7 linked regions of the Homo sapiens genome follow. The gene in region 1 interacts genetically with each later gene. Each region holds a gene or a part of one and is shown in the gene's direction. Other genes may lie near its edges.

Region 1 (3,500 bases):
GTTTGTTTTAACTCATCTCTATATAGGACTTCTAAGACTTATTTATATTTTTTTCAATAATTAAAAGAGCAGGTACATTTTTAATAGTTCAGAAGGGGGTTAGATACATAAAAAGTAACACATAAAAGCCTGCCCCACATATCCCATTTCCTTTCTTTTTGTAAAACATTTGCAATGTGTCCTTACATATCATTATCTTCATTTAATAAAATTAGGAAGTATTTGAGAAATATTTTAAAAAGAAGAACAATATACCAAAAATTCTTATACCAACTTCTCAGTTTAAGAAATAGAAACATTAGGCCAGGCACGGTGGCTCACGCCTGTAATCCCAGCACTTTGGGAGGCCAAGGCATGCGGATCTCTTGAGGTCAGGAGCTTGAGACCAGCCTGGCCAACATGGCAAAACCTCATCTCTTCTAAAAATACAAAAATTAGCCAGGCATGGTGGCTCACGCCTGTAGTCCCAGCTACTAGGGAGGCTGAGATACAAGAATCTCTTGAACCCAGGAGGCAGAGGTTTCAGTGAGCCAAGATTGCACCCCTGCACTCCAGCCTGGGCTATTAGAGATATGATGGAAGCCTTTGTCCCTCTATGATTTCATTCCCCTCATTTTTTTCCCCAGAGATTACTACTGTTCTGAATTTGGTGTTGATTGTTCTGTTGAATGTTCTATTACTTTTACTATATATGTATTTATTTATAAATAATATAAGAAATTGTTTTGCTTCTTACAGCTTACATTTTGTTGATCAACACTATCTTTATGAGACTTATCCATGGTGATATGGGTAACTCTAGTTTTTATTTAAACTTCCAAATAGTAGCCAAATTTGGATGGACACTATCAGACCTCCTATTGGTGGACAATCAAGTTGTTTCCAACTTTTCACAATTACAAGCAACATTTAAATGAATATTTTTATAAATGATTCTTTAGTCATTCTAAGTCCTTGCTGTTTGAAAAGTATGCTCCACAGACCAGTAGCATCGCCACCATTTAGGGACTTGTTAGAAATGGAGCGTCTTTGATTCTGCTGAAAGAGCACATTAAAAAAAAAGAGAGAGAAAGAAAGAAATGGGGAATCTTATGCTCCACCCAGACCTACTGATCAGAATCTGCATTTTAACAAGATAGGTGATTCATATCCATATTAAAGTTTGAGAAGCATTATTTTAACGTTTTTACCTACCTAGGAGTAGTATTGTTGGGTTATAGAGTTTGCACATCTTCACCTCTATTCTGCTGTATTGTTCTCCAAAGATACACCAGTTTACACTCCTGTTAGCAGAGTATGAGTTCCACATCCTCACTGACACTTAGCTGACTTTAAAATTTTTGCTATCTAGAAAATAAAAAATGTCATGGAGTTAAGTATCTTAAATTTTTTCTTTTTCCTATCTGGTAGGTATGATTTTCAATTTGCATTTCCTTGATTATTTAGTAAGGTTGTGTATAGACCTTTTTCAGTGCACTTGCTTTATTTTCTGAAAAGGAGCTTTTAATTAAATTAGGTATTAAATGTATTTTAAGTGTTACTTGACTTTTATTTATATATATGTATACACAAATGTTACTTTACTTATATATATGTATATGTGTATACATAAAATTAACATTAGTAGAAATCTTGTTTAATAGACTTAATTTTTTCAGCACCACAGGCACAATCACGATGTGTGTTTCTTCTGACTCTGTTTCCAAGAAGAATATTCCTTGAGTGGAGAACAGCAGTTTACAACTGGGCCCTGCAGAGCTCCCATGAAGTAATCCGGGCTAGTTGTGTTAGTGGATTTTTTATCTTATTGCAGCAGCAGAATTCTTGTAACAGAGTTCCCAAGATTCTTATGTATGTACTAAGATTTTAATTTGAATATATCACTCTATTGGAAAGATCATAATTGTCTGGCTATGTATGCAGGGTTGTGTTTATTGTTGAATATGTAAAGCAAATGTTGCTTTTAGTTTTAGAATTTAACATTTTTTCCTTCTAGGCTTTGTTTTACCAGTACTTTTGTCCCAAATTAAGCAAGACTATTTAGACCACAAAATTAGGCAAGAAAGTTTAGTACTTTTTCTTTTTTTTCCCCAGAGATAAAGTCAAAGATGATTCTGACATTGTCAAGAAAGAATTTGCTTCTATACTTGGTCAACTTGTCTGTACTCTTCACGGCATGTTTTATCTGACAAGTTCTTTAACAGAACCTTTCTCTGAACACGGACATGTGGACCTCTTCTGTAGGAACTTGAAAGCCACTTCTCAACATGAATGTTCATCTTCTCAACTAAAAGCTTCTGTCTGCAAGCCATTCCTTTTCCTACTGAAAAAAAAAATACCTAGTCCAGTAAAACTTGGTGAGTGATTATGACTTATTTAATACTTTAAAACCTATTTAAGCTCTGCTTTTCAAATCAGTAAAAGAATTAGACTGAAGCCTTGAAAAATTACAGGAAGTTACATGCTTTATAGATTCAGTGCTCAGTATTGATTAGTTATAAATGGGATAACTGGTATTAGATCGCATCACAAAACTGGTAGGAGAGGTGATTTTGGGATTTTTCGAATACTCTTGTGATTTGACAGCCTAAATGGGGCATACCTGATGGTTGTTTCAATATTGTAAGATTCAATATTAGATTATCTTCTTTAGTGATACCAGAGATCGTCTTAATGTGCCCCCTGTTACAACCTTGGACCTTGAGAACTTCAAATAGTTAAATTACTTTGCCCAACTGAGGACTATAGAGTGTATCTTCTTGGCCACTTTCCAGTGGTAATGGAGTATAAATTTTTATGAAGTATGAGATTTATACAAATACTTAGAAGATCCATTTGTTTAGGTAGTAAGTTGAAACTTGTTCTGAAGTTTCAATAGAAACTTTCTATTGAAAGCAATAGAAAGTACTCCCTAAATCTTGTAATGTAAGGTTAACAATAAAGCTAAGATCCCCTTGAGAAATGTGCTTTTCTTTTTTTCTTTTTTTTTTTTTCCCCGAGACGGAGTTTTGCTCTTGTTGCCCAGGCTGAAGTACAATGGCGCCATCTTGGCTCACTGCAACCTCTGCCTCCTGGGTTCAGACGATTCTCCTGCCCCAGCCTCCGGAGTAGCTGGGATTACAGGCGTGTGCCACCAGGCCTGGCAAATTTTTGCATTTTTAGTAGAGACAGGGTTTCACCATGTTGGTCAGGCTAGTCTCCAACTCCTGACCTCAGGTAATCTACCCACTCTGTCCCCCCAAAGTGCTGGGGTTACAGGCATGAGCCACCATGCCCGGCCTTTCTTCTTTCTTTTTTTTTTTTTAAGAGACAGGGTCTTGCTCTGTCACCCAGGCTAGAGTGCAGTGGCGCAATCATGGCTCACTGCAGTCTGCATCCTTGATCTCCCAGGCTCAAGTGATCCTCCCACCTCAGCCTCTTGAGTAGCTGGAACCATAGTATGTGCCACTACACCCAGCTAATTTTTAAATTTTTTGTAGAGAGGGATCTCACTTTGTTGC
Region 2 (3,419 bases), on another chromosome or scaffold:
AACTCCTGCAGAGATGGATTTGGCCCACAACAGCCAAAGCATGCACGCCTCTTCAGCTTCCAAATCTGTGCTGGAGGTGACTCAGAAAGCAACCCCAAATCCAAGTCTTCTAGCTGCTGAGGACCAAGTGCCCTGTGAGAAGTGTGGCTCCCTGGTACCGGTATGGGATATGCCAGAACACATGGACTATCATTTTGCATTGGAGTTGCAGAAATCCTTTTTGCAGCCCCACTCTTCAAACCCCCAGGTTGTTTCTGCCGTATCTCATCAAGGCAAAAGAAATCCCAAGAGCCCTTTGGCCTGCACTAATAAACGCCCCAGGCCTGAGGGCATGCAAACATTGGAATCATTTTTTAAGCCATTAACACATTAGTGCTGCCCTCAGGCTTGCCTGTAGGATTTAATATTTTTTATCTTTACAGATCTTTATCTTTAATATTTTATCTTTACAGATTTCCCTGAGAAAGGGAATTATGAAATTTTTAATACAAAAAATAATCCATTTAGGTGCTGAGTTACGGTCCCATCTCTTCACAGGCATGGATTCTAATCCCACTGCTGACAGAGATGTAAAAATTCATCCTACCAGAGTTTTTAATCTTTAGCATTTAGGGAGGCAGTGTCATAAAGTAAAAAGTGTGTGGGCCTTGGAGTCTAAGAGACGTGGTTGCAAACTTAGCTCTGGTTATTGCAATGAGGGCCTTGAACAAGTCATTTTCTTCACATTCTCATCTGTAAAATGGAGATAATACCTTACAGATTATTGCAGATTAATAACAATGTATTCAAATTATGTAACTCGGCCGGGTACAATGGCTCACGCCTGTAATCCTAACACTTTGGGAGGCCGAGGCAGACAGATCACCTGAGGTCAGGAGTTTGAGACCAGCCTGGCCAACATGGCAAAACCATCTCTACTAAAAATAGAAAAATTAGCCAGGCACGTTCCAGGCACCTGTGATCCCAGCTACTTAGAGGCTGAGGCAGAAGAATTGCTTTAACCTTGGAGGCGGAGGTTGCATTGAGCTGAGATCATGCTAGTGCGCTCCAGCCTGGGCAACAGAGCGAGACTTCATCTCAGAAAATAAAAAATAGGGGCCAGGCACAGTGGCTCATACCTGTAATGCCAGCACTTTGGGAGGCCAAGGCGGGCAGATCACGAGGTCAGGAGTTTCAGACCAATATGGTGAAACCCCATCTCTACTAAAATTACAAAAAAAATTATCCAGGCGTGGTGGTGCACGCCTGTAATCCCAGCTACTCAGGAGGCTAAGGCAGGAGAATCACTTGAACCCAGGAGGCAGAGGTTGGAGTGAGCTGAGATCGCGCCACCGCACTCCAGCCTGGGCAACAGAGCGAGACTCCATCTCAAACAAAAACAAGAACAAAAACAAACATAAAGTTGGCACAGAAAAGGGACCAAGTTTAAAAAAGGGTTTTAAATGTAATGAGACTTGCATAGTTAAAAAAAAAAAAGGGATTATTTTTATTTTTATTTTTTATTTTTGAGACGGAGTCTCCCTCTGTCGTCAGGCTAGAATGCAGTGGTGCGTTCTCAGCTCACCGCAACCTCCGTCTCCTGGGTTCAAGCAATTCTCCTGCCTCAGCCTCCCAAGTAGCTGGGACTACAGGCACGTGCTACCACACTCAGCTAATTTTTGTATTTTTAATAGAGATGAGGTTTCACCATGTTGGCCAGGATGGTCTCGATTGCTTGACCTCATGATCCGCCTGCCTCGACCTCCCAAAGTTGCTGGGATTACAGATGTTAGCCACCGATCCTGGCCCCCCCAAAAAAAGGATTTTAAGAAAAACTTCTCTTGGCCGGGCGCAGTGGCTCACGCCTGCAATCCCAGCACTTTGGGAGGCCGAGGCGGGCGGATCACAAGGTCAGGAGATCGAGACCACGGTGAAACCCCGTCTCTACTAAAAAATACAAAAAAAAATTAGCCGGGTGCGGTGGCAGGCGCCTGTAGTCCCAGCTACTCGGGAGGCTGAGGCAGGAGAATGGTGTGAACCCGGGAGGCGGAGCTTGCAGTGAGCCGAGAGCGCGCCACTGCACTCCAGCCTGGGTGACAGAGCGAGACTCCGTCTCAAAAAAAAAAAAAAAAGAAAAACTTCTCTTTAGGCTGGGTGCGGTTCCTCATGCCTATAATCCCAGCATTTAGGGAGGCTGAGGTGAGTGGATTGCAGGAGCTCAGGAGTTCGAGACCAGCCTGGGCAAGGTGGCAAAACCCCGTCTCTACTAAAAAAAATTAGCTGGGCTTGGTGGCAGGCGCCTGTAATCCCAGGTACTCGGGAGACTGAGGCAGGAGAATTGCTTGAACCTGGAAGGTGGAGGTTGCAGTGAGTTGAGATCACACCAATGCACTCCAGCCAGGGTGAGAGTGAGAGACTGTCTCAAAAAAAAAAAAAACAAAAGAAAAACTTCTCTCTAGCTCTGTGACGGGCAGTTCAGATAATACCTTCACCAGATTTACCTGTTTTCAGCTGAAGAATGTGAGATGAAGCCTTGAAACCCTAAAAGTGATATGGTAACTAGGGCAGGTCTTTCTGTACATAAAAGTGACTTAATAAACAGTGAATTTCATACAGGTAAACCCTATTATACCCTCAGTTCTAACCATTGGCCTATCTCTTGCGTTTTGTTCTAATGTAGAATTAGATTGCTACTTGACTAGTTCAGGAACTCTGTTTAGATCTGATAAGTCATAATCAAATCTTGCCAGGCGTGGTGGTTTATGCCTGTTATCCCAGCACTTTGGGAGGCCAAGGCAGGTGGACCACGTGAAGTCAGGAGTTCAAGACAAGCATGGCCAACATGGCGAAACCCTGTATCTACTAAAAATACAAAAATTAGCCGGGCATGGTGGTGGGTGCGTGTAATCCCAGCTAGTTGGGAGGCTGAGGCAGGAGAATCACTTGAACCTGGGAGGCAGAGGTTGCAGTGAGCCGAGATTTCCACTGCATTCCAGCCTGGGCGATAGAGTAACTCTGTCTCAAAAAAACCCACTAGATCATCTCTAGAACATTGCTACTCCCAAGTATGATTTGAGGAACAGCAGCCTCAGTATCACCAGGGAACTTATTAGAAATAGTCTCAGCCTCACCACTATTCCCACTTAATTGTAATCTGATATTAACAAGATTTCCCAATGTGGGTCAGGTGTGGTGGCTCATGCCTGTAATCCCACACTTTGGGAGGCCAAGGTGGGCGGATCACTTGAGGCTGGGAGTTTGAGACCAGGCTGGCCAACATGGGGAAAACCCATCTCTACAAAAAATAACAAAAATTAGGTGTGTGTGGTGACGCATGCGTGTAATCCCAGCTACTTAGGAGGCTGAGGCAGGAGAATCACTTGAATCTGGGAGGCAGAGGTTGTAGTGAGCTGAGATTGTGCCACTGCACTCCAGTCTGG
Region 3 (3,185 bases), on another chromosome or scaffold:
AGGTGAGAATTCACCAATGTGGTTGTGGAGAACTGGCTTGTTTTGCCCGTTGGGGTGACTGGAAGGAGTGGTAGCACCTGGGGCTCCCTGCTCAGGCCTGATGCCACTGCTCCCCAGGGACTGTCCTGGCTGTGTTTGGCTCCGTGAGAGACGACGGGAAGTTTCTGGTGGAGGACTATTGCTTTGCTGACCTTGCTCCCCAGAAGCCCGCACCCCCACTTGACACAGATAGGTGAGCAGCAGTTCTCGGGAGCTGGAACCAGCTCATGGTCAGTGGAATCTTTGAGTTGCACCTAGGAGGGGCTGCCTCCCTTCTCGGCACCCTGGAGGACCCCACCTTCTCCCGCAGGTTTGTGCTACTGGTGTCCGGCCTGGGCCTGGGTGGCGGTGGAGGCGAGAGCCTGCTGGGCACCCAGCTGCTGGTGGATGTGGTGACGGGGCAGCTTGGGGACGAAGGGGAGCAGTGCAGCGCCGCCCACGTCTCCCGGGTTATCCTCGCTGGCAACCTCCTCAGCCACAGCACCCAGAGCAGGGATTCTATCAATAAGGTATGGAGCCCACCTGGCTGCATTCAGCCCCAGCCCAGGAGCCTGCAAGCCTGTAAGACCCTCCTTCCCCAGGGCGAGTAGGGTACCCTGTGAGGTCTCGCAGGTCGGTGGGAAGCGCCCTGCAGTGACTCTGGGGCCTCCTGCAATGGGGCTCCTCATGCCCAGGCCCTCGCTGAGGATGGTGGGAGGCTTGAAGGGAGTGAGGGTCTATGGGACAACAACTGCATCTTCCAGCTGGTGGGGCTCTACTCTCCTCTGAGCCTGGGACTCGCCTGGGCCTGATGGCCTTCTGGGCTTCTATTCCAGGCCAAATACCTCACCAAGAAAACCCAGGCAGCCAGCGTGGAGGCTGTTAAGATGCTGGATGAGATCCTCCTGCAGCTGAGCGTGAGCGAGCTGGGGGCTGGAGGGGTGATGGGGATTGCAGTCTTCAAAGCTGCCACTGGGCAACAGAAGGCAGGCAGGAGGGCAGGGGGAGTGGCCGGAGTTGGTGTAGGGGGCTCCTTCGGGGCCCTGTGAGCTCTCCCTGCCCTGTGCCTTCCAGGCCTCAGTGCCCGTGGACGTGATGCCAGGCGAGTTTGATCCCACCAATTACACGCTCCCCCAGCAGCCCCTCCACCCCTGCATGTTCCCGCTGGCCACTGCCTACTCCACGCTCCAGCTGGTCACCAACCCCTACCAGGCCACCATTGATGGAGTCAGGTAGCTGGCACAGCCACACTTCAGTCTGACCCAGCCTTTTGCCTCAGGAGGCACAAAGAAGGGAGGGGAGGGAGGGCCCAGGAAGGTGGCAGGGCTGCAGAGGCCCACCTAGCATCTGTTCCTTCTCTCTGGGGCATCCCCACAAGAGCGCCAGATGAGCTCTGGGCTGACCACTATGGGTGGCACCCAAAGCCAAGAGTCAGCTGAGCTTTGCCTTGCAGATTTTTGGGGACATCAGGACAGAACGTGAGTGACATTTTCCGATACAGCAGCATGGAGGATCACTTGGAGATCCTGGAGTGGACCCTGCGGGTCCGTCACATCAGCCCCACAGCCCCTGACACTCTAGGTAACAGGCTCAGCCATACAGGGTGGGAGCAGAGGGCCAGGAGGCCTGGCAGGACCCTGAAGTGCACAGGGTCCCCCTGTGGGTTTGCACTTGCCAGCATTGCTGAGAACTGTCTGAGGAGAAGTTCAGAGGCTTGGCACCTGCTCTGGAAGCTACTCTGGAATCTTAATTCTAAGGCCAATGGCTGCCCACCCCAACGGGCAGCAACAGCAGGGCCAAGGTCTTGTGACAATGTCTGGAGGTGCCCCTATTGTCACACTGGGGGTCTCCTACTGGCCTGCAATGGGAGGAGGGGCTGCAGCCCCACATCCTGTGCAGAGTGCTAGTGCTGAGGCGGAACCCTCCTCAGAGCTGCCCCTTCTCCTCCAGGTTGTTACCCCTTCTACAAAACTGACCCGTTCATCTTCCCAGAGTGCCCGCATGTCTACTTTTGTGGCAACACCCCCAGCTTTGGCTCCAAAATCATCCGAGGTAATTTTTGTCTTCTGGGGGCCCAGGCTGATTTGCTGATTTGCTCTCACCTGGGGACAAGGTTCACAGAGAAGAAAACCTGCATTGTGGAGTCCCCCTGGCCCTTGTGGGATGGACAGCTGAGGTCTTCTGCACAGCTGCCATTTCACTGTGGGAGCCAAGCTGCCTCGCCAGCTGGGCAGGGACTGGAACGGCTCCCAGCCTGTGTGCCTCTCAAGGCTAATCTCTGGTCTCCTATTGTCACTGCCCCACTGTGTGCCAATGGGGACTCCTGTTTATTTCTGGCAGCTTCTCTTTGAGGCAGGACTTACTTGGAACCTACAGTGGGTCCTATGTGACTTCTTTGCAGGTCCTGAGGACCAGACAGTGCTGTTGGTGACTGTCCCTGACTTCAGTGCCACGCAGACCGCCTGCCTTGTGAACCTGCGCAGCCTGGCCTGCCAGCCCATCAGCTTCTCGGGCTTCGGGGCAGAGGACGATGACCTGGGAGGCCTGGGGCTGGGCCCCTGACTCAAAAAAGTGGTTTTGACCAGAGAGGCCCAGATGGAGGCTGTTCATTCCCTGCAGTGTCGGCATTGTAAATAAAGCCTGAGCACTTGCTGATGCGAGCCTTGAGCCCTGGGCACTCTGGCTATGGGACTCCTGCAGGGGTGCCCACAGTGACCATAGCCCATGCACCCACCAGCCGGTCTCCCTCCTCCCCATCCCTGACACCTCAGAATGTGAGCAGTCCGTGCCATGAGCTTGTTTTATTGGAGTGACCTTGGCTCCCTCCCTCTGCCCCTACTCCAACACTGCAGCAACCCCATCTCTTACGAGACTGGCAGGTGGAGCAGGAGCCTCTACACAGCCTCTGGCTCTTAGGTCCCAGTCATGTTTGCACCCCCTCAAAGGGGCAGGACCAGCCCTTCCTTTCAGTGTCCATACCAGGGGCCTTCCATGTGCTGATGGGTGATGTGACTGTGGTCAGCAGGCTTGGGAAGTGCTGCTGCTGTAGCTTGAGTTGGGCTGGGGTCTTGGTAGGACGCTGATCTCAGAAGTCCCCAAAGTTCACTGTGTAGGTCTCTACTGTTGTGAAGGGGAATGCCTGGCCAGTGGCTATCTCCTCCTCTTTC
Region 4 (3,500 bases), on another chromosome or scaffold:
GAGGCAGGAGAATTGCTTGAATATGGGAGGCGGAGGTTGCAGTGAGCCAAGATTGCCCCACTGCACTCCAGCCTGGGTGATAGAGCAAGACTCCATCTCAAAAAAATTATCTTATGAGTGGGTACTATTATTCTCCTCATTTTACAGTTGAAGGAACTGAGCCTCAGAAAGATTAAATTTACCCAAGATCACATAGCTAGAAGGCAGCAGAGGCTGGATTCAACTTAGATTAGGTGAAATCTCCCCTAACAGTCAGTTAATAGTTTGCCACTTTTTAACTTAAATCCTCCTGCCTCAGCTTCCCAAGTAGCTGGGACAACAGGCATGTGCCACCACACCTGGCTAATTCTTTCTATTTTTTGTAGAGATGGGGCCTTGCTTTGTTCCCAGGCTGGTCTTAAACTGTTGGCCTCAAGTGATCCTCCTGCCTCTGCTTCCCAAAGTCTGGGATTACAGGCATGAGCCACCAGGCCCAGCTTTTTTTTTTTTTTTTTTTTTTTTTTTTGAGACGGAGTCTCGCTCTGTCGCCCAGGCTGGAGGGCAGTGGCATGATCTCGGCTCACTGCAACCTCCGCCTCCCGGGTTCAAAGCGATTCTCCTGCTTCAGCCTCCTGAGTAGCTGGGAATATAGGCACGTGCCACCACACCCAGCTAATTTTTGTATATTTAGTAGAGACGGGGTTTCACCATGTTGGTCAGGATGGTCTCGATCTCTTGACCTCACGATCCACCCGCCTTGGCCTTCCAACATGCTGGGATTACAGGCGTGAGCCACCCCACCTGGCCGGCCCAACTCATTTTTTTGATATGCTGTTCTGGTCATGAAAGTAAAATATTTATTTTAGGATATTTAAAAGAATACAAACTGGGTGCAGTGGCCCACGCCTATAATCTCAGCACTTTGGGAAGCTGAGGCGGGTGGATCACCTGAGGTCAGGAGTTCGAGACCAGCCTGGCCAACATGGCGAGACCCCGTCTCTACTAAAAATACAAAATTAGCCAAGCGTGATGGCCAGTGCCTGTAATCCCAGCTACTCAGGAGGCAAAGCTGGAGAATCGCTTGAACCGGGAGGTGGAGGGTGCAGTGAGCTGAGATTGTGCCATTGCATTCCAGCCTGGGCGACGAGAGAAACTCCATTCTCCCCGACCCCCGCAAAAAAAGAATACAGAAAGATATAAATAAAAACTTATCCATGTCCACCATCCAGGATATAAATGAAAGTTAGTTTGTTCCCCTTAATCTTTTTTATGCATATATTTTTATATAGTTGAGATTTGTACAATCTTTCTATATGTATAATTTTGCATCTTTTTTTTTCTACTTAGCATATCCAGAAACATTTTCCTATGATGTTAAAAAAAGTTTTATAAAGATAATTCTAATAGGTATTTAATATTATATTGTATGTGAATGATTTGGAATTCACATATAGGACATCATATTGATCCCTATTAGATTTATATGGTTGCTTTTATCCCATCATTTCATTCTATTAAGATTCACTTTGGGTTCTAATTTATCACCTATCAAATTAACTCTCATACAGCTTTAGGTTATCCATAGATTTTTCTAAGGTAGTGGTTCTTCTCTGCAGAGCTCTTTGTTCAAATAAAATCTTTTAAAGAATGACAGATAAAAGTTGAACTGTTCAAAGATGGTAAGTGGGAAGTTTGGGAAACTTAGTGACTAGTGGCCTCTGAAGGAATTTTCCAGGAACTCTAGGATTTAGAACAACTTAGCTTTAAGAAAATACAGTATAGGCTGGGCGTGGTGGCTCATGCCTGTAATCCCAGCACTTTGGGAGGCTGAGATGGACAGATCCCCTGAGGTCAGGAGTTCAAGACCACCCTGGCCAACATGGTGAAACCCTATCTCTACTAAAAAAACAAAAATTAGCCAGGCATGGTGGCACGCACCTGTAATCCCAGCTACTCGGGAGGTTGAGGCATGAGAATCACTTGAACCCAGGAGGTGGAGGTTGCAGTGAGCCGAGATGGCATCTCTGCACTCCAGCCTAGGCGACAGAGCGACACTTCATCTCAAAAAAAAAAAAAAAGAGAAAATACAGTATAGGTCTTCGATAAAAATCAGTTTTCAGAAAGCCACCAAACTTCTGCCATTTTGGACCACATGGGACCAAGGTGACTTTGAATCCAGGGTGACACCAGATTTATTCTCCGGGGGAGCTGAAGTCATAAGAAGTAACTAGTCGTTTTGATTACCAGGAGCTCTGAGCCTTAGTCTTCCTTCTGATGTGGGGGTCAAGATTTGTTAGGCTGTAAGAAGATCCCAGTTTATTACCTTTCTACACCACACCATCTCTAGTTTGTCTCTTAAAGCTGGTGTGCTCAAATGCAAAATGAAATAGTTTGAACCTTCCAGCAGGTATTCTAATACATGTAAAAGAGATTAAGAGTTTTCTGGCTTTCAAATCACCCAATCTAAGTTGAATCCAGGCTCTGCTACCTTCTAGCTATGTGACCTTGGGTAAATGTAATCTTTCTGAGGCTCAATTCCCTCAACTGTAAAATGAAGAGAATAATAGTACCCATTCCTATGATAATATGTTAATGCCTGTAAAGCACAGTTATTAGCACACAAGACATATTAAGTGATCAACTTTTAAATACAGATGCTCCACATCTTACAATGGGACTATATCCTGATCAATCCATCATAAGTTGAAAATGCACTTTCATATTATCCAGATATAACTCCATCGTAAATCGAGAAGCATACTAAGTGCGTATCACATTCATGTCATCGTAAAGTTGAAAAATCATTAAGTCAAACCATCATAAGTGGAGACTATTACAAAAAAATTTAAATATTATCAAATGTATTATGTTTATTATTATTAGAAGTGACTCTGTTCTGCTTTTCTTTGCTTCCATATTCTGTGAGTATATTCATTGTTGCATTTTCTAATCCTCAAAATTGCTTTCTAGGAGGTTGAGGAAATACCTGGAGGATGAGGCAGAGGTGTCAGGAAGTGATGTGGGAAGCGAAGATGAGTATGATGGGGAAGAAATTGATGAATATGAAGAGGACGTAATTGATGAAGTACTTCCTTCTGATGAGGAACTGCAGAGTCAAATCAAGAAAATACACATGTCAGTATCCCAATAAGCCCTTCTGAGTAATAGGGTACATCTTAAGACAAGCCCTGTAACCAGCCAGAATGGTCCTTGTTTTGAACACCTTATTTCTCCTGTTGCAGGAAAACTATGTTGGATGATGATAAGCGACAGCTACGTTTATACCAAGAGAGGTACCTTGCTGATGGGGATCTGCACAGCGATGGTCCTGGGCGAATGAGGAAGTTTCGATGGAAAAACATAGGTATCTTGGTTGTTGTCTTTAAAAGCAATCAGTTACGGGCTGAGCATGGTGGCTCACGCCTGTAATCCCAACACTTTGGGAGGCAGAGGCAGGTGGATCACAAGGTCAGGAGTTCAGGACCAGCCTGAACAACATGGTGAAACCCCGTCCCTACTAA
Region 5 (3,500 bases), on another chromosome or scaffold:
TTCCCTGTTCTTTCCCAGCGCAGGGCAGCTGCTTAGGTTTGGATTAAGGAGGCGGAAGGGTCTTAGTGGTCACCCACTTAACATATCTTGACCAAAAACTGATTCCTGCCCTTTGCACCCGACGAAACTCATTCTTACAGACTTCATTCTAGACTTGCTAGTCCTTCAGACGCATTGAGATCTGGGAGTTGTCTGGGGATTTGGAGGCGATCTATTTGTGATAGGTCCCTTACATCCTGTCTTTCTTCATGTGACTAGTGCCTTGCCATCAGTTTTACCAGTTACAAAAGTTGATTTTCTTTTTCTCACCCATTATCTTGCCCGTTGAGGCAAGAGAAGTGTTTAAGAGGGCGGCCTTCAGAAACAGCAGTGTCTGGATTCGTCACCATTATTACTTTGACCTCGGGGCTGACATCAGCAAACATAGCAGTGAGCTGCTGTGTGCGCAGCCTTCATCCTAGATTGCTTTTGTAGCCTCCAGCCTCAGTCTCTATTTGATCTGCGTATCTCTTGCATATAAAAAGGAAAAGCTTTGCCTCTCATGTTATATGATTTCACTAGTGGCACCTCCAAAATTTAGAGTTATTGTAAAGCTTACTATAAAAAAGCTAAGTAGAATAGTAATAACTCCTTTTCGTTTGCGTTTGTTTTTAAAGGTTCTACTGTTTCTAAGGCTTATGGTGCTTCAAAGACATTTGGAAAAGCTGCAGGTCCCAGCCTGTCACACACTTCTGGGGGAACACAGTCCAAAGTGGTGCCCATTGCCAGCCTCACTCCTTACCAGTCCAAGTGAGTTGTTGCATAGAGTAAGTTCAGAGTGTACTTATGAAATCGGAGAAGCTATTATGGACTCTTGAGTTATTTATGCGTGAACTTCAGGGTCACCACCAAATACCACCAAATAGAATGGGTTTACTCTTTTTTTTTTTTTTTTTTGCTGAGGAGGAAAGGGGTACAAATTGTGGCAAACTTTTAACTCTTGTTGGAAAATATAGTAACAATAGCAATCTGCCATAGCCTGTGGGGTTTCATTCATTTTGAAAGAATTTGAAATTAAAAATACTTAATGCTTAATCAGTTGATAGTCTTATGAGTAAAAATAAATATTTCTGATAATTCAAAAGGCATTTAATCTTCTCCTATAAACAGGTGACTTCGTCTTTGGTTTAGTTGGCTAAAATAATCTGCACTATTTGTATTAAACACATGAACATACCCTGAACATAAATTTCTTTTATATGACTTTTTTCCACCAAAAATTAATTTGAAGCCGGGCGCGGTGGCTCATGCCCGTAATCCCCGCACTTTAGGAGGCTGAGGCGGGTGGATCACCTGAGGTCGGGAGTTTGAGACCAGCCTGGCCAACATGGTGAAACCGTGTCTCTACTAAAAATACAAAAATTAGCCAGGTGTTGTGGAGCACGCCTGTAATCCCCGCTACTCAGGAGGCTGAGGCAGAAGAATCGCTTGAACCCAGGAGGCGGAGGTTGCAGTGAGCCAAGATTGTGCCACTGCCTTCCAGCCTGAGTAACAGAGTGAGATTCCGTCTCTCAAGATAAATAAACAAAATAAAGTAATTTGAATAGTTAAAAATTAGAGTTCTTTTTTCAGAATCCTTCCAGATATGTTTATATTTATTCTTCAATACTCTGTAACGTAGGAAAGATATTTTTCCCTGTGAAATTATAAGTGGGGTACCTAATGTGCCCTGTGCCTCCTTTTTCCATGCTTCTCTCTAAGGTCATGCTGCTTCAGTGTGTTCTTCCTGATGGTCCACCAACATCGTGTATTCTATTCAGGGTGTGTTACGAATGAGACAGAAGTGTAACACCAGTTATATCAGTTCCCATAATTGAAAACTGTGGCAAAATATAATTGCTGGTGTTACTGTATTTTCCAGCTTAGAACCTTTCATTAAGGGGATATGGTTGCCTTGGTGATGCTTTTTGGAGAAGGGAGAGAGTTTATAAATTTACTTATTTGACAGGAGAATGAGTTAGTATTAAATCACTTTGCATGTTTTACTATTTGCTTATTCTGTAAACTGTCAAACCCATGTGTCATCTTGGGGTTTTAATTAGCTGGATTAAAATACAGGTTGGAAAACGGAATATGCGTAAGACGAGAAAGGCTGTAGGAAGATGATTTCTTACTTGATCTTTTCCAAGGAAGACCCCATACACTAATATGATCGATTTGGTTTGTAGGTGGACCATTTGTGCTCGTGTTACCAACAAAAGTCAGATCCGTACCTGGAGCAACTCCCGAGGGGAAGGGAAGCTTTTCTCCCTAGAACTGGTTGACGAAAGTGTGAGTGTTTGTCATGCTGGGGAGTGAGGGCAGTGGGCTCGCCGGGAAACAGAAGGCTCAGCTCTGCGGAGGGCAGTGGGCTCGCTGGGAAACAGAAGGCTCAGCTCTGCGGAGGGCAGTGGGCTCGCCGAGAAACAGAAGGCTCAGCTCTGCGGGCCTATGAGGTGAAGAATAATAGTAGGCCAGAGAGAAGCATGATTGTTATTGTGCTTTTCCCTCTGTCATAGTCTTTTGATGCTGTCTGGAGTAGAGGGTTAAGGTCATAAATAAAATCTTTGATCTTAAATGACAGCGTTTGTAGCAGTAGAAAGTAGTTTTCTAAATATATAAGTAGCCTCCTGGGCAGGAGAAGCTGGAAACAGTCTGATTTGCTGGCAGGTGTACTGGAAGCACTGGGAGGTGATGCCTGCTTGTGAGCGCCGTGGAGCTTTGGGACACAGCAGAAGGCACACAGTTGTGACCTCGATATGGGAGTGGTTTTGTGGGAAATGGGTTCTGACTGTGCAGATTCTCTATTTGCTTTATTTAAACTAAACAAAACCATGACGATGAGACAAAATTCCTATGCCATGGAAGTACGACAGTCTTGATAGCTGTTAATCAGTCCATTCGTTTTGCTAATAATTCCTGAAATTGCCGGGTGTGGTGGCTCACGCCTGTAATCCCAACACTTTGGGAGGCCAGGGTGCACAGATCACTTGAGGTCAGGAGTTCGAGACCAGCCTGGCCAACATAGTGAAACCCCGTTTATACTAAAAATACAAAAATTAGCTGGGTATGGTGGCAGGTGCCTGTAGTCCCAGCTACTTGGGAGGCTGAGGCAGGAGAATCAATCGCCTGAACCAAGGAGGTGGAGGTTGGAGCCAGCCAAGATTGCACCACTGCACTCCAGCCTGGGCGACAGAGTGAGACTCCATCTCAAAAATAATAATAATTCCTAAAATGTACTTCAGCATTCTTTTCAAAGTGCTGCAGATTTCCTGTTTGTTCAGACTCCCAAATAGGGAGAAAAAAATAGATGTTTTTTTTGGAAGTTGATATAACACCCAAAATGTTTGTGTGATGGCAGAATCAATATTAGAACCTAATTTTTTTTTAGAAATTATTGCTCTAATGTATGGTGGTTGGCTAAAATTTCTTGTCCACTTGTAAATTTTGGCTGACAGAAAAGCAAAAGTGAAAATCAGATC
Region 6 (3,925 bases), on another chromosome or scaffold:
CTGGAGTGCAGTGGTGCAATCTTGGCTCACTGCAATCTCTGCCTCCCGGGTTCAAGCGATTCTCCTGCCTCAGCCTCCCGAGTAGCTGGGATTACAGGCATGCACCACCACGCCCGGCTAATTTATATATGTTTAGTAGAGACGAGGTTTCACCATGTTGGCCAAGCTGGTCTCGAACTCCTGAACTCAAGTGATCCACTGCTTCGGCCTCCCAAAGTGCTGGGATTACAGGCATGAGCCACTGTTTTTTTTTAAATCCTTGCGCAGGGGCCTTGCTCATCTTTTGCATGCTTCAGTTTTAGTGTATGTGCTGCCGAAGCAAGCACTCTGTCTCATGAATAATTTCAAATATATGTAAAAGCAGACGCAGCTCCCGTCCCCACTTGACTTGAAACAATTTCCAGATGTGATTTCATCTGTATGTCAATGGGTATCCTTAGAGGATAAGGATTTCAGGGCTCTTTCTGAAGGCCGGGTTTGTAGGGTGGCCTGAGTGCCACGTCCTGCCTCTGGGCCCTCTCCCTGGTCTGCATGGTCAGGTGCCGCCTGCCAGGTTTGAGCAACCACTGCAACCAGTCCCCTCCCTGCCACCTTCTCTGGGCCTCATCCACGGTGCGCTAGGCCTGCGCACATCCGTGCGTGTGCATGTGTCACCCCCACCTCAGGTCCTCCGAGAGCAAAGCCCTGGGCAGGGCCAGGCATTTCGGGTAATGCTCCACCCTGTTCACAGGGTTCTGGGGGAGGCTGTTCTGCCCTTCTCTCCTGCACTGGCTGAAGTGACGCTGGGCATTGGCCGTGGCCGCAGGGTCATCCTGCGCAGCTACCACGAGGAGGAGGCAGGTGAGGGGGCTGGACGTGGCCTGGGACAGCAGAGTGGCAGGTGGGAGAGGGGCGGGGCCCAGGTTACTCCTGTTCTTCCCCAACAGACAGCACTGCCAAAGCCATGGTGACTGAGATGTGCCTTGGAGAGGAGGATTTCCAGCAGCTGCAGGCCCAGGAAGGGGTGGCCATCACTTTCTGCCTCAAGGAATTCCGGGTGAGGTTCCTCCCAGGCGCTCGCCGTCCTGTCCTCCCTGCCCAGCTCAGCCCAGCCCGGGGCCTCACCTGCTACCTCTTTCCTCCCAGGGGCTCCTGAGCTTTGCAGAGTCAGCAAACTTGAATCTTAGCATTCATTTTGATGCTCCAGGCAGGTAGTTCCCAGCCTTGGGACAGGGAAGGGCTCTGGGATGGCAGGAGCTGAATGGGATGACCTAGCTTGGGCCCCCTCCCCTGCCCAGGCCCGCCATCTTCACCATCAAGGACTCTTTGCTGGACGGCCACTTTGTCTTGGCCACACTCTCAGACACCGACTCGCACTCCCAGGACCTGGGCTCCCCAGAGCGTCACCAGCCAGTGCCTCAGCTCCAGGCTCACAGGTGAGGGCACCTCCCCCCAACTCCTCCTCTCTCCATGTCTGTGCACTCCAGCCTGAGACTGCAACTCCTAGCTTCTGCACCTCCCCGCAATGTGTTCTCTCCCGCCCCTTCTCTTTCTATCAGGCCCCAGCCCCTAACCCTATAGTGCTCACAGCTGCCAGCCCTGCAGACTCAGCCTTCTCGGTTAGCTGTACTCAGAGACCCCTCCCACCCAGGGAAGCATCCCCAAGGCCCTGCCAGCTTCCTTCTCTGGCTGAGGCCGCCCCTCTGAGCCTCCTCCCAGGCCAAGGAGGGAAAGGGCTGCTGGGAGGCAGGAGCTGCCTGGGCTGGGGGAAGCAGGTGGCTGGAAGGGCAGGTGGGCTGGGGAGGATGGCCCAGTGCACTTTCAGCACAGGAAGTTGGGGCTGGCCCCCAGCCCAGCCTGTCCCTGGGCTCCTGTGCTTTCCAGCTCCTGTCCCCTGGGAAGGTGGGGGCTTGGGCTCCATGTGGCCCAGTTCATAAGACTTGCTGCTCCTCCCTCCTAGCTGAGCTAAGGTAGCCCCCGGGATGCCTCCCTCAGGCCCCTACCTGAATTCTGATCAAAGAGATTCCTGGCCCACCCCCTCCAGGAAGTCACCACTTAACCCCTGCATCCTCTCCTCTCCAGCCAAATCAGGAAGTCATAAAACCAAGAGATCTCCAGTGGTCGGGGGCCCCAGAGCTCCCTTCGAGCCCTCCAAGGTGGGGCCCTGCCTCTGCTCCCCCAGTCCCCTCCCTGATACTCCGATTCTGCCTACAGCACACCCCACCCGGACGACTTTGCCAATGACGACATTGACTCTTACATGATCGCCATGGAAACCACTATAGGCAATGAGGGCTCGCGGGTGCTGCCCTCCATTTCCCTTTCACCTGGCCCCCAGCCCCCCAAGAGCCCCGGTCCCCACTCCGAGGAGGAAGATGAGGCTGAGCCCAGTACAGTGCCTGGGACTCCCCCACCCAAGAAGGTAGGGACTGGAGGTGGAGGCAGGGGTGGGAGGTAGGGAAGGGAGCAGCCTCCAGAACTCACTTGTTCTCTTTCCAGTTCCGCTCACTGTTCTTCGGCTCCATCCTGGCCCCTGTACGCTCCCCCCAGGGCCCCAGCCCTGTGCTGGCGGAAGACAGTGAGGGTGAAGGCTGAACCAAGAACCTGAAGCCTGTACCCAGAGGCCTTGGACTAGACGAAGCCCCAGCCAGTGGCAGAACTGGGTCTCTCAGCCCTGGGGATCAGAAAGGTGGGCTTGCTGGAGCTGAGCTGTTTCACTGCCTCTCGCAGGCCCCAGCTGGCTGTCACTGTAAAGCTGTCCCACAGCGGTCGGGCCTGGGCCGTTATCTCCCCACAACCCCCAGCCAATCAGGACTTTCCAGACTTGGCCCTGAACTACTGACGTTCCTACCTCTTATTTCTCATTGAGCCTCAGGCTATACTCCAGCTGGCCAAGGCTGGAAACCTGTCTCCCTCAGGCTCACCTTCCTAAGGAAAATGTCATAGTAGGTGCTGCTGGCCCCTGGTGATCCAGCTTCTCTGCCAATCATGACCTGTTCCTTCCTGAAGTCCTGGGCATGCATCTGGGACCCCCGTGGAGCTGACAAGTTTTCCTTGCTTTCCTGATACTCTTTGGCGCTGACTTGGAATTCTAAGAGCCTTGGACCCGAGTGTGTGGCTAGGGTTGCCCTGGCTGGGGCCCGGTGCCGAGACTCCCAAGCGGCTCTGTGCAGAAGAGCTGCCAGGCAGTGTCTTAGATGTGAGACGGAGGCCATGGCGAGAATCCAGCTTTGACCTTTATTCAAGAGACCAGATGGGTTGCCCCAGGATCCGGCTGCCAGCCCTGAGGCCAAGCACGGCTGGAGACCCACGACCTGGCCTGCCGTTGCCCTGAGCTGCAGCCTCGGCCCCAGGATCCTGCTCACAGTCACCGCAGGTGCAGGCAGGAAGCAGCCCTGGGGGACTGGACGCTGCTATTGATTCATTAAAAAAAGAAAAGAAAAATACACCAAGGCTCCATGTTCCCCGTGACAGGTGGGCCTGAGGGGTCGGGGTGACCCCCCCCCAGCATGGCAGCATGATTTCTGTACAATCAATCCATCATCTGGGGCACAGGGTGGTGTGCGGGGGCTATTTCTTGGCTTTGGCGGAATTGCGGGGTGGGGTGATGGGTCGGCCTCCAGGGTTCAGGCCACTGAACTGCCCGTACTTCCCCTTGTTCTTGTCGGCGGGCTTGAGGATCTAAAAGAGACAGTGTTGGTCAGGCTCATGGGGCTGAGCCACAGGGCCTAGCGGCTCCTTTCTTCCCCACACTCACCTGGAAAGAGCACATGAGGGTCTCGTCCACACTCATCATGGCGCCAGCATTGTCAAACTCGCCACAGTAGTTGGGAGCTGAGAAAAGTGTCACCAGCTGCCGCTTGGCAAAGAACTCGTAGCCGTCTTCTACCACCTGGGCGAGGATGGGAGCAGTCAGTCCCGAGCGCAGGCACGGCCCTCCCCTTCC
Region 7 (3,500 bases), on another chromosome or scaffold:
TCATTGCACTAATGGTGTGCCAATGTTCTCTCCTGGGCTGTCTCCTTCCACGGACGCATTCCCAACCCTGCTTGGGCTCTGACCTCCCATTACAGGCTGTTTTCCTAATGGAATACCCTCCTTGCATTGTTTGGGTTCTTACACCCTGCACTGGGCTATCCCCTGCCAGGAAACCCTCATCACCCATTTGGCCCAACACTCTGTTTGGATTGCTGCCTTGCGTGGAAGCCCCCTTTCGCTTCTCTTGACCTCTGACATCGTGGTGTCTTGCCTCATGGTCTCTCTGTGATTCCACTGGGCTCTGACATTGTAAGCCTACGTTTTTTCCTATGGGAATGCCCTCCTTAACCTACTCAGATTCCATCATCCTGTGCTTGGCCACCTCAGTTTCCCCTCCCCACTCAGTTCAGATAACTACGTCACATGAACCCTTCCAGAAGGGGAAGAGGGAAGAGTTTAAATTCATTTTACAATTTGATAACTGCAACCCCACAATTTCCTTTGAAAAGAATGTGCTAATTATTATGAGTGAGTGCCAGTAGTTTAAAGTCCTGCCCCATTCCAGCTTCTTCGTTTCGACTGTTGGGCCATCATTCAGTCAGCCTTTCAAGCCTAGAGTGTGGTGATCAATATTTATTTCTCTTACACCACACATTTCCAGTTACTCTGCCTTCACATCATCTTTTGCTTCTACTTGGGCATTTTTGTTTCCACTGTGACCACCTTAATAAGCTAGAATCATGAAATACTATGGCTAAAGAATCCCTAAGGGTCAGTTAGCCTGTGTCTTCCTCCCCTCTCTCAGCTTTACAGATCTGGCTGCTGAGATTTAGAGGCATTCATTAAATTCACCAAATAAGTCTAGTCAGTATCAGAGCTTGGACTAGAACTCATGTTTCTTCCCTATATTATTGCAGTAAACCCTCTTACCTGCTCATCTGATATGTCCTATGTAAGCTACCTATTTGGTGCAGTATCACACAATTTACCCTGTAGGTCTGTTTGACTTTCCGTGTGTGCCCATGAGGGCAGGGACTGTGTTGCAGTTGTAGAAATAGGTAAATTAATTGAAAGTTGTTAAAAAGCACATGATCTGTTTATAGTGTGAGATGTCGTTGGATATACAGAAAATTGTATGCATTTATATTTAATTCTTCCTTAAAACTTGAATGAATAGGCAATTTGGGAATCATTTTTCACCTAATTTTTTAACCTCGTTTTTTAAAAAAGAAAAATTCTATTGGAGAGTAAGAATGATTTTTACAGTTTACTAATATCATACTTCGCTCATCTCTTAGAATTTTAAGATTGTTCATAGGGTTTAAAAATCTAAGATTTTTAAAAATAAATTCTTGGGGCAAATACTTCTTTTAATAGCAAAACTGAATGCTTATTATTTCCATTTCTTAGTACTGAGATTAGCTTTTTCAGTATATTTCTCTGGAGTGAGAATGGAAACATACATGAAGAAATTGGAATTTACTTACAAGTAATTTTCAGCTCTGAATATGTTGTTTACAAATTAGGATTCTCTCTGATGCAGAATACAAAGTGGGATATGTGAGGTGAATGCAACATGTGTAGAAGTCTTGAGTTAAGAGTTTGAAATCCTGGGGATTATGTTTTGTAAATTCAGAGGTTAAGGAATAAAAGTAAGCATTCCAACTTGGCCTTTTAGTGTTACTATTTTTCAAAACATCAACTCTGAAACGAACATATTTTTGTACTGCCACTGTTTGCTAATGCTGTTGAGTTTTAAGGAGGATAAATTAATCATTTTGATATTCTTTTGGCTCTGCTAGGACTAATGAATTTCTTTGTTTATACTTTATACATATGAAGACTTAGGATTTCTTAATGACAGGTGCTGACTTATTTTGCCTGTTTTACTCTTAATTCAGATCCCTTTTGCTGATGCTCTGGATTTGTTTCGAGGAAGGAAAGTCTATTTGGAAGATGGCTTTGCTTACGTACCACTTAAGGACATTGTGGCAATCATCCTGAATGAATTTAGAGCCAAACTGTCCAAGGCTTTGGCAGTGAGTATTTTACTTGATTTCTGTATCTGACATGTTCACACTTTCAGTTATATACCCCTGGTAGTTTTATTCTGTGTTTCTCTAGGAAATAAGTTAATTCAGTTTTCATAATGATATTCAGATTACATATGATGTTGTACTGTTAATCCCAAAATTCCTAGGTTTTTATTTGTTACTATCCATAGTTGGTTTTTAAGTTTTTTTTCTTGATCCTACTAATACCAATGCTGAGTGATTAATTTTGTGAGTAACCTCTGTGGGTTTCTTCATGGTCATGTCTTTTTTCCTTAGAAATAGACTTCGTATATGGCTCTTAACAATTAGTGTGGCCTGTGGTAGATATAACTCCTAGATTTCTGTTCTGAATTAGTATTTGGTATCAGTAGAAGACAATATAGAAGAAAATCTTAAGTACTAACACTGTGATATGCTAGTGCTGCAATGAGTAGCTCCATACTGGGTGAATTTGGAGGTAGCTGTGTTGAACAAATGACATGATCAGTGATTTTTAAGTAGTTTGTTGGAAGTGTGACTCTTAAGTGGTGATATCTTAAAACTATACACATTTTTATATGTAAAACACATATTTTACAGTTGTTGTCTCTTAATCTGAGTCAGTTTTTAATACTTTTTTTGTACCTAATGCAGAAGAAGACTTCAAAGGTTTGTGACATGGCTGTTTTAAACTGTACTGATTATAGTGTAAGCATATGCCAAGCTTTCCTTCTCAGTTAAAAATTGTAGTATTTTCTGATATAAATAAATTTTTATTGACTCTCTGGGGTTACCTAAATATGTATAATTTAGCTATGTCAGCACTTGGGAAGACTAAAATACTAACTCTGTGTTTATTAAATGAAGGAATTTATGAGAACACCTAGCATAACAGGTATTTAGTAACTGTTAATATTCTTTCTCCATTCCTAATCCTGTTATTTCTTTATCCTCATGAAAGTTGATGCTTTTAAATTTTTTCTTTACTTGTCTGTCACTACCCTAGATTATATTCTAGTTACAGCTAAGAATAGTGTCTTTCACCACTGTGGAAGACACTGATACTTGTCTACTGTTTGGCCATTGCTCTTTTATTATTCTTAGTTTTATTCACCCATATTCTCTCTGTTGACATTTTAGACCACACTTCTTTGTGTGAAATAGACAAATATTTTCCAGCATATTGGATAGTTTTAGCTGTCATCTATTAAATGCTGGTGGTGGACCCCAGTCTCCATGACAACCAAAAATATCACCGTGCATTTCAGAAAACTTCTGGCATGTTAATGCTACTATTAATCTGATCATAGTCATTTCCTTCTTACCAAATTTTTAATTTATGCCTGTGACAATGTCATTGTGGCTAAAAAGTATGAGTTCTTTGGGGGCTCCTGAAAAAAGTTTTTCTTGCTAAAAAAAAAAAAAAAAAAAGGCATGTGGGATGAAGTAGTCTTTTTTTCCCCCCTC

The links.
Region 2: changes in ATR (region 1) and POLH are lethal when combined (synthetic lethality), as found in Homo sapiens cells (one large-scale study listed by BioGRID).
Region 3: changes in ATR (region 1) and POLD2 are lethal when combined (synthetic lethality), as found in Homo sapiens cells (one large-scale study listed by BioGRID).
Region 4: changes in ATR (region 1) and CLSPN are lethal when combined (synthetic lethality), as found in Homo sapiens cells (one large-scale study listed by BioGRID).
Region 5: changes in ATR (region 1) and RPA1 are lethal when combined (synthetic lethality), as found in Homo sapiens cells (one large-scale study listed by BioGRID).
Region 6: changes in ATR (region 1) and RAD9A are lethal when combined (synthetic lethality), as found in Homo sapiens cells (one large-scale study listed by BioGRID).
Region 7: changes in ATR (region 1) and PRIM2 are lethal when combined (synthetic lethality), as found in Homo sapiens cells (one large-scale study listed by BioGRID).

What each region holds. Positions count from the first base shown.
Region 1 is NC_000003.12:142,554,734-142,558,233, reverse strand, and holds part of ATR (serine/threonine-protein kinase ATR), read left to right. Parts: intron 1-1,658; coding exon 1,659-1,851; intron 1,852-2,094; coding exon 2,095-2,357; intron 2,358-3,500. UniProt on the Homo sapiens protein: Serine/threonine protein kinase which activates checkpoint signaling upon genotoxic stresses such as ionizing radiation (IR), ultraviolet light (UV), or DNA replication stalling, thereby acting as a DNA damage sensor.
Region 2 is NC_000006.12:43,614,185-43,617,603, forward strand, and holds part of POLH (DNA polymerase eta), read left to right. Parts: coding exon 1-373; 3' UTR 374-3,419. UniProt on the Homo sapiens protein: DNA polymerase specifically involved in the DNA repair by translesion synthesis (TLS). Due to low processivity on both damaged and normal DNA, cooperates with the heterotetrameric (REV3L, REV7, POLD2 and POLD3) POLZ complex for complete bypass of DNA lesions.
Region 3 is NC_000007.14:44,114,180-44,117,364, reverse strand, and holds the end of POLD2 (DNA polymerase delta subunit 2), read left to right. Parts: intron 1-117; coding exon 118-232; intron 233-349; coding exon 350-548; intron 549-854; coding exon 855-935; intron 936-1,092; coding exon 1,093-1,250; intron 1,251-1,471; coding exon 1,472-1,599; intron 1,600-1,968; coding exon 1,969-2,070; intron 2,071-2,419; coding exon 2,420-2,580; 3' UTR 2,581-2,685; downstream 2,686-3,185. Other genes in the region: AEBP1 (adipocyte enhancer-binding protein 1 precursor), read right to left, coding at 3,104-3,185. UniProt on the Homo sapiens protein: Accessory component of both the DNA polymerase delta complex and the DNA polymerase zeta complex.
Region 4 is NC_000001.11:35,738,979-35,742,478, reverse strand, and holds part of CLSPN (claspin), read left to right. Parts: intron 1-2,949; coding exon 2,950-3,114; intron 3,115-3,221; coding exon 3,222-3,343; intron 3,344-3,500.
Region 5 is NC_000017.11:1,875,005-1,878,504, forward strand, and holds part of RPA1 (replication protein A 70 kDa DNA-binding subunit), read left to right. Parts: intron 1-656; coding exon 657-789; intron 790-2,207; coding exon 2,208-2,310; intron 2,311-3,500. UniProt on the Homo sapiens protein: As part of the heterotrimeric replication protein A complex (RPA/RP-A), binds and stabilizes single-stranded DNA intermediates that form during DNA replication or upon DNA stress.
Region 6 is NC_000011.10:67,394,986-67,398,910, forward strand, and holds the end of RAD9A (cell cycle checkpoint control protein RAD9A), read left to right. Parts: intron 1-730; coding exon 731-840; intron 841-926; coding exon 927-1,036; intron 1,037-1,125; coding exon 1,126-1,190; intron 1,191-1,277; coding exon 1,278-1,415; intron 1,416-2,193; coding exon 2,194-2,401; intron 2,402-2,478; coding exon 2,479-2,574; 3' UTR 2,575-3,425; downstream 3,426-3,925. Other genes in the region: PPP1CA (serine/threonine-protein phosphatase PP1-alpha catalytic subunit), read right to left, coding at 3,550-3,660, 3,737-3,871. UniProt on the Homo sapiens protein: Component of the 9-1-1 cell-cycle checkpoint response complex that plays a major role in DNA repair. The 9-1-1 complex is recruited to DNA lesion upon damage by the RAD17-replication factor C (RFC) clamp loader complex.
Region 7 is NC_000006.12:57,380,130-57,383,629, forward strand, and holds part of PRIM2 (DNA primase large subunit), read left to right. Parts: intron 1-1,901; coding exon 1,902-2,039; intron 2,040-3,500. UniProt on the Homo sapiens protein: Regulatory subunit of the DNA primase complex and component of the DNA polymerase alpha complex (also known as the alpha DNA polymerase-primase complex) which play an essential role in the initiation of DNA synthesis.